Homo sapiens: one gene and its partner. The protein of the gene in region 2 purifies or fractionates together with the protein of the main gene of each other region. This does not show direct contact. Each region holds a gene or a part of one and is shown on either strand. Other genes may lie near its edges. The genes, in order: CEACAM5 and SELE.

The links.
Region 1: the proteins of SELE (region 2) and CEACAM5 purify together in Homo sapiens (co-immunoprecipitation; one study listed by IntAct). This does not show direct contact.

Annotation. Positions count from the first base shown.
Region 1 is NC_000019.10:41,714,902-41,718,721, reverse strand, and holds part of CEACAM5 (cell adhesion molecule CEACAM5 isoform 1 preproprotein), read right to left. Parts: intron 3,752-3,820; coding exon 3,473-3,751; intron 3,073-3,472; coding exon 2,818-3,072; intron 1,268-2,817; coding exon 989-1,267; intron 595-988; coding exon 340-594; intron 1-339. UniProt on the Homo sapiens protein: Cell surface glycoprotein that plays a role in cell adhesion, intracellular signaling and tumor progression. Mediates homophilic and heterophilic cell adhesion with other carcinoembryonic antigen-related cell adhesion molecules, such as CEACAM6.
Region 2 is NC_000001.11:169,724,014-169,727,833, forward strand, and holds part of SELE (E-selectin precursor), read right to left. Parts: coding exon 3,726-3,820; intron 3,513-3,725; coding exon 3,336-3,512; intron 2,794-3,335; coding exon 2,686-2,793; intron 1,916-2,685; coding exon 1,894-1,915; intron 1,789-1,893; coding exon 1,731-1,788; 3' UTR 1,716-1,730; intron 497-1,715; 3' UTR 1-496. UniProt on the Homo sapiens protein: Cell-surface glycoprotein having a role in immunoadhesion. Mediates in the adhesion of blood neutrophils in cytokine-activated endothelium through interaction with SELPLG/PSGL1. May have a role in capillary morphogenesis.

The DNA of each region.
Region 1 (3,820 bases), on a different chromosome or scaffold from region 2:
GTCAGAAAGGGACATATTGGTGACAGAGAGGAGCAACTTGACCTTGAGGACCCTTCTTGCTTCCCCCTCTGTGAAGCCCCTTCCACTACATAGGGCTCAGGGCTGATGAAGACCCCTCCCCACATTTCTCAGGGTGGACACAAGGTCAGCCATGAGAAATCAGAAAAACAAGGGGAAGAGTGTTTGTAGAGACAAATTGGGAGTGCTCAGGATTGAATTTGGGATTGCTTGTGCCCATTGGATGCATACTAGGAAAGAAAATTTCTTCCTGGCTCTTTTCTGAAAACCAGACAGATTCCGCTCCAGAACATATTGCTAACGGTCCAGGGATCCACTTACCAGAGACTGTGATTGTCTTGACTGTAGTCCTGCTGTGGCCACTGGCTGAGTTATTGGCCTGGCAGGTATAGAGTCCGCTGTTCTTCTCAGTGATGTTGGAGATAAAGAGCTCTTGTGTGTGTTGCTGGATGTTCCCATCAATCAGCCAAGAATACTGTGCAGGTGGGTTAGAGGCTGCATGGCAGGAGAGGCTGAGGTTCACCCCTGGACGGTAATAGGTGTATGAGGGGGAAATGGTGGGGTCGTCTGGGCCATCTGGAGCAAAGAGAATAGGGCCACAGGTGAATGTCATCAGAGCAAAGGGGAAGCTCCTGGTCTGTGAAAGGGCAACAGTGTCCCCCTGAGCCAAGTCACAATCCTGAAGTCCTAACCAAACCCCTACTGTATCCAATTAGCCAGAGTCTGAGACATTCATCTGTTTCTCCCATCACTAGCTGTGGATCCCGAGTGTTACAGGACAGGAGCAGACCCTCCCCTCCTATTCTTGGTCAGGACTGGGCCTGCATGGATTTGCTGGGGGTAGGGCCAGCCTGGATGTCCAGGGGTAAAAGTCTCTGTCCTTGGGCCTGAGAGGGACTGAGAGGCCTGGACTTTGGCTATGTGGATTTGGGCTGGCAGCCTGAGCCACAGAGGAACAGAAGATACTCACAGAGGACATTCAGGATGACTGGGTCGCTGTGGTCAACACTTAATTCGTTCTGGATTCCACACTCATAGGGTCCTACATCATTCCTTGTGACACTGAGTAGAGTGAGGGTCCTGTTGTCATTGGACAGCTGCAGCCTGGGACTGACCGGGAGGCTCTGATTATTTACCCACCACAGGTAGGTTGTGTTCTGAATCTCAGGTTCACAGGTTAAGGCTACAGCATCCTCATCCTCCACGGGGTTGGAGTTGTTGCTGGTGATGAAGGGTTTGGGTGGCTCTGCTGTGCAGATAACAGAGAGAAGATTGCCCTGTGTGGCACCTGTGATTCCTCCACGGGCATCTATCAATCAGAGTTGGCATCTCCCACCTCTCAGCCCAACTGAGTCCTTAAAAGCTCATGGCAGGTGTGTGTGCGTCACAAGACAGATGCACAATGATCTGAGGGCTCAGAGACCATGAGGCTGGCTGTTTTGTGTGGGAGAAGCACAGACTTTCTCAAGTGTGAATTGGGCAGTAGCATTGGGTTGTGGACAGACACAGGGCTGGGGGTCACAGCCCCCAGCACTTCTGGTCCTTTCCTGACTGGCTGGCTGCCTGGCCCATTGGGGTCCTCACCTGGAATTTGAAGGAGCTGCGTTTCTTCCAGCTGCACAGTCCCACACCACCCAGCCAAGTTGTGTTTGCTCTGAGGCTTTGCTATTTAAGGACATCCTAGAGATAGGTGATGATGGAGATGGATGTTTGAGCAGAAATAGTGCAGGAGACTAGGAGCATGTCTAGAGGTGACAAGTCAGGGATCAGACTGTGGGCCATAGATGGGGCAGCTCTGCCCAGGAGTTTGATGGGAACAGAGTTTCATTTTGGGAGGAAGAAAAGAGTCCTGTGGGTAGATGGTGGTGATGGAAGCAGAACAAGGGGAATATATTTAATACCACTGAACTGCATGTGTAGAAAAGTTAAGATGGTAAGTTTGTGTTAGATATGTACTGTTACCATCTGTATAAACACACGATTTTTGACACTGCCATTCCCTGCCGTGCAGAGCCCCTGTGGTGAATCTCCTGATTTCTCCAAGTGTGGGTCACTTGCTGTCCCCTGTGCTGTGTCCCATGTGCTGTGCCCACAGCCTCATATAGCTGGTGACATCAGAGCCAGGACGCAGCTCAGGAGTCTGCCCTGAGGCTCCCTCTCTTTCCATTTTCCTGCAGCCTGACTGGGACGAAGGGAAGCTTTGGTGTTGATTGGCAGCTTGATTTAGCCGAATTCAGGACAGACCACCCGGGCTCCTTCTCCACACACCTCGTTCCCACCTAGGTGGAGTCAGGCAAGGCCAGTCACCCAGGGGAGCCCAGAGCAGAGCAGGGAGCAGTCTGAGCTGTGTCTCCCTCACCCAAGGGGCTTCCTTCTCTCATTTGGGAAAAAAGTATGAGCTTGTTTCAAAGCCTTGAATGTTGCTTGTAGCTCATGGAGTAGGCAAAAGAACACAAAGAGGTGACAGAAAGGGACACATTGGTGACAGAGAGAAGCAACTTGACCTTGAGAACCCTTGCTCCTTCCCGCTCTGTGAAGCTTCCTCCACTACACAGGGCTGTGGGGCTGAGGGAGCCTCCTCCCCACATTCCAAGCTGGACCTGGGGCCCGCCATGAGAAATCAGAACAAGAAGAAAAGAGTCTGTAGAGACATATTGGGGAGGTTCAGTGGGAGAATCTGGGATTTGCTTGTGCCCACTGGACACAGGCTGGGATAGAAAATGTCTTCCTGGCTCTTGTTTGAAAACCAGACAGACTCCACCTCAAAACATGATGTCAGTGCTTCGTGGATCCACTTACCATAGACTGTGATCGTCGTGACTGTGGTCCTATTGAGGCCAGTGTCTGAGTTATGGGCTTGGCACGTATAGGATCCACTATTATTCACAGTGATGTTGGGGATAAAGAGCTCTTGGGTGGATTGCTGGAAAGTCCCATTGACAAACCAAGAGTACTGTGCAGGTGGGTTAGAGGCTGCGTGGCAGGAGAGGTTCAGATTTTCCCCTGATCTGTAAGATGTGTTTAGAGGGGAAATGGTGGGGGCATCCGGGCCATCTGGAGCAAACAAAATAAAGCCACAGGTGATATTGTCAGAGGGAAGTGGAAGTTCCTGGTCTATGGAAGGACCACAGTGTCCCTCTAAGCTGAATCACAATCCTAAAGTCTCAGCCAAACCCCTCTTGTATCTACTGAGCCTGAGTCTGAGATATTCACCTGTTTCTCCCATCATAGGGTGTGGACCCTGAGCCTCCCAGGACAGAAGCAGCCCCTCCCCTCCTATTCTTGGTCAAGACTTGGTCTGCCCAGGTTTTTCTGGGGCAGAAAGTCACAGACAGTCTGGATGTCCAGGGTTGAGGGTCTGTGTACTTGAACCTGAGAGGGACTGAGAAATCCTGCCTCTGGCCCTGTGGATTTGGGCTGGCAGCCTGGGCCAGAGAGGAGCAGATATACTCACAGAGGACATTCAGGATGACTGAATCACTGCGCCTGGCACTCACTGGGTTCTGGGTTTCACATTTGTAGCTTGCTGTGTCATTTCTTGTGACATTGAATAGAGTGAGGGTCCTGTTGCCATTGGACAGCTGCAGCCTGGGACTGACCGGGAGGCTCTGATTGTTTACCCACCACAGGTAGGTTGCGTCCTGAGTCTCAGGTTCACAGGTGAAGGCCACAGCATCCTTGTCCTCCACGGGTTTGGAGTTGTTGCTGGAGATGGAGGGCTTGGGCAGCTCCGCTGTGCAGATAACAGAGAGAAGATTGCCCTGTGTGGCACCTTTGATTCCTCACAGGCATCTTTCAATCA
Region 2 (3,820 bases):
CATTCAACATCTGTCATTTTTTTAAGTTATAATATTTTTAGTCATTTTTTTCCTCTAAACTCTGGATAATTATTATTCATTCTTATGACAGCAACTGTGTAATCAGCTGTCGAAACACTGTGAAGGGCAAAAGAAAGAAAGCCACAAAATATTGTGTTTCTGTGCCAAGATTTTACAGCGAGCAAGGGAGAGTTAGAAAAGGAATTCTGAGATTTCAGAGTCTTGGTCTCTTCACCTTTGCTTGGAAGAAAATATCCTTTCCCTTCATTAGCCAACACTTTCTTGATCCTGAGAGTAGGAAAGGGAACACTGAGTCTTTTCAGTTGAAGGCCGTCCTTGCCTGCTGGACTTTGATCTATTGAAGTGGTGATGGGTGTTGCGGTTTCAGCCATAAAGGCATCTGGCATAGTAGGCAAGAAGGGCCAGAGACCCGAGGAGAGTTATCTGTCTCTGTTAACTTCAGTGTATCCCTCTAGTTCCCCAGATGCACCTGTTTCTGTAAATATAAACATGCATGTCATCAGAACACTTAATATTCTGCATACTGATCATGACAACAAAATGTACCTTCTAACACAGACACTCTCACTAGGATAGACCATGTAGGAACATCGAATTCTATTCAGTTAGGACAGTGATGATGTCTACATATTATACCTCTGTCAAAACCTACAGAATATACAACACAGCACAGAGTGAATTCTAATGTAGCCTGTGGACATTAATGAATAATAATGTATCAATATTGGCCCATCAGTTGTAACACTAATATAAGATGTTAATAACAGGGGGAATTGAAGGGGTGGTGGGGAGATATGTTGGAACTCTTTGTGCTTTCTGCTCAATTTTTCTGTAAACTTAAAACCGCACACACAAAAAAAGTTATTTTAATTTTTTAAAAAGTATTCAGAGGGACTTGACCTTTCCAAATTCTCTCAAAGCAGGTCGGAGTAGTTAAGAACACAAATTTTAGAACCAGACTGCCAGAGTTTGAATCCTGGCTACACCACTTACTAGCTTTGAGATTTCAGACAATTTACTTAACTTCTCTGTCTCATTTTCTTCATCTGTGTGATAAGAAATAAAGTAACAGGCCAGGCCCAGTGGCTCACGCCTGTAATCCCAGCACTTTGAGAGGCCAAGGCGGGTGGATCAGGAGTTCAAGATCAGCCTGGCCAACATGACGAAAAAATACAAAATCTCTACTAAAAATACAAAAATTAGCTGGGTGTGGTGGCAGGCACCTGTAATCCCAGCTACTCAGGAGGCTGAGGCAGGAGAATTGCTTGAACGCAGGAGGTGGAGGTTGCAGTGAGCCAAGATCATGCCACTGCACTCCAGTCTAGGCAACAGAATGAGACTCCATCTCAAAATTAAAAAAAAAAAAAGTAAAAAGAAAAGATAAGAAATATAGTACCAGCCCCTATCTCAGAGTTCCTAGCTTAGAAAAATTCCCAGAATATAATAAGTGCAATGTAAGGGTCAGCTATCTTCATTATTATTATCTATCATAAATGAAATTACACAATAAAGCTAGATCCGTTTCTTTCCTCTCCTTCTACAAAAAATAAAGCAACTTTCCAGAACAATACCCAGGTGATGATTTCTCCCCTGCTCCCTCCCTAAGATATTGGCAAGTTTGGAGGGTTCAAGGAGAAACAGAGCATGTAGAGAAGATACCTCTCTCATAACCATTTGTGATTTACAAGTCTTACCTGATTCTTTTGAACTTAAAGGATGTAAGAAGGCTTTTGGTAGCTTCCATCTGATTCAAGGCTTTGGCAGCTGCTGTGGAATACATGAGAACACTAGGTAAAGCACTGTCTTCCAACATGAAGAGAGAAAAATATGTGGAATGTTCAATGGCATGCTTTGTATAAGAATGCAACTTACCTGGCAGGAACAAATTTCTTTGCTGCAAAAGAAAAGACAAACAACCATTAATTCAGACTAAATGACTTTTAAGGATATATTAAATCCAGATACAATATGACTTAATTCATCAAGTGTTGCAAACTCGATGCTTCAGGGCCTCTGTAATAATCAGAGCACAAGCATGGCTCTGTGGCATCTAGGGTAAAATGCAAAGTGCACAGCCATCCAAAGGGCATAGCAGCTTCCTAATGCCAGCAAATAGCTACGGGGTCATCTTGCCCAATTCAGCTCCCAATTTTTCATGAGAAGTCCAAAGTCTTAATTTAAATGTGAGATTTCCTATTTTGTAAACGTCAGAACTTAACTCAAAAATGTTTTAAGTACTCTTAAACATGTAAGCCAAACAAACCATGAGTGTAGTCAGATGTGCTTCCATATTCCTTATGAGAGACTCTCAAATTTAAGCCTGTACTCCAAATAAATCTCCTTAGGAAGAATTTTATCCATTTTCCTTAGAGTGCTCATCATGGCAGTTCCATTGCACAATTCCGGGAGGCATCATATAATTCAACATGAATAGCACCCCCTGGAGTTGTACAATATTAGGCACGACTAACATTTTTATTTCCTGAAACACTTCCCACACTGAGTTGTACTACTAACTCTTTTCTTAATACTTCTGCTTAATTATACTGCATTTTATCCAGATTCTAATTATTGTTTAAATCAGTAAGCAAGACCATGACTTATCAATGAGAAAGAAATGTATTTTCAAAAACATTTTTGAAGTACATTCATAAACTTCCTCACCTTTCCGTAAGCATTTCCGAAGCCAGAGGAGAAATGGTGCTAATGTCAGGAGGGAGAGTCCAGCAGCAGAAAGTCCAGCTACCAAGGGAATGTTGGACTCAGTGGGAGCTAAGGAAGTAAGAGACGAAGAAAGGTCATGAGGAAGAATTGATGTTAAAGTCTCTCCGTCCTGTCCCTTTGGCCTTTTTTCTGTACATTCATTACTAGGAGCAGAAGAGCTATCTAGTTTAATACAAGAAGCAGAGATGTGGCATTACAGGCCTTTGAGATCTGCTCCAAGCCACCTTTGAAGCTATTTCCACCATTGGCAGGCAGAACTCTAACTTGCCAAGCTCGTTCACAATACCACACCACACCTTGGTTAATAAACACTGCACTTGCTTGCTCTCTTGCTCTCACTCCCTCTTGTTTTCCATTTCCCCTTTCTCCTCTCCTCTCTCTGTCTCCTTTTTCCAGTTGTCAGAATTCTACCCTTTCCATCAACATGCAACTTCTGTTTTTTCTCTATCCCCATACAACTTAATATTCACAACTTGTCAACCTGGGCGAACTTTCTGGTTTGGATATAATGAATAGTTGATTACTGTAACAAGATAGCTCCCCCTTTTTCTTTTTAATCACCAGACAACCACCATCAATCAATGCATCACCTTCACAGGTAGGTAGCAGGCCAGACCAGTGTCCTGTGGCTCCACATGTCCGAGCTGCAGAGCCATTGAGCGTCCATCCTTCAGGACAGGCGAACTTGCACACAGTGCCAAACACGGGCTCCCCACTGCAGCTCATGTTGATCTTTCCCGGAACTGCCAGGCTTGAACATTTTACCACTGCAAATGTTAGGTACACAGGCAGAGTTTCAGAAAAATCTACTGGAAAACTTCCAAAACTTGCTTAAAAGTCAACAATGAATGTAAAGTGTAAGCGCTACTTAGTTTTCAGCATGTAGGAAATTAGGACCAAACCCCTTTGGGGCAATCTAGGTTCAGAAACTTTATGAAGTATTTGACCTGTACCCTAAAAAAGTCTGCACTCAATTCTACCTTGGCAGGAAGGAACCTCTTCTGTCCATTGTCCCTGAGATGTGCACTCAAGTTGAGTTGATCCATGTAATTCAAATCCCTCCTCACAGCTGAAG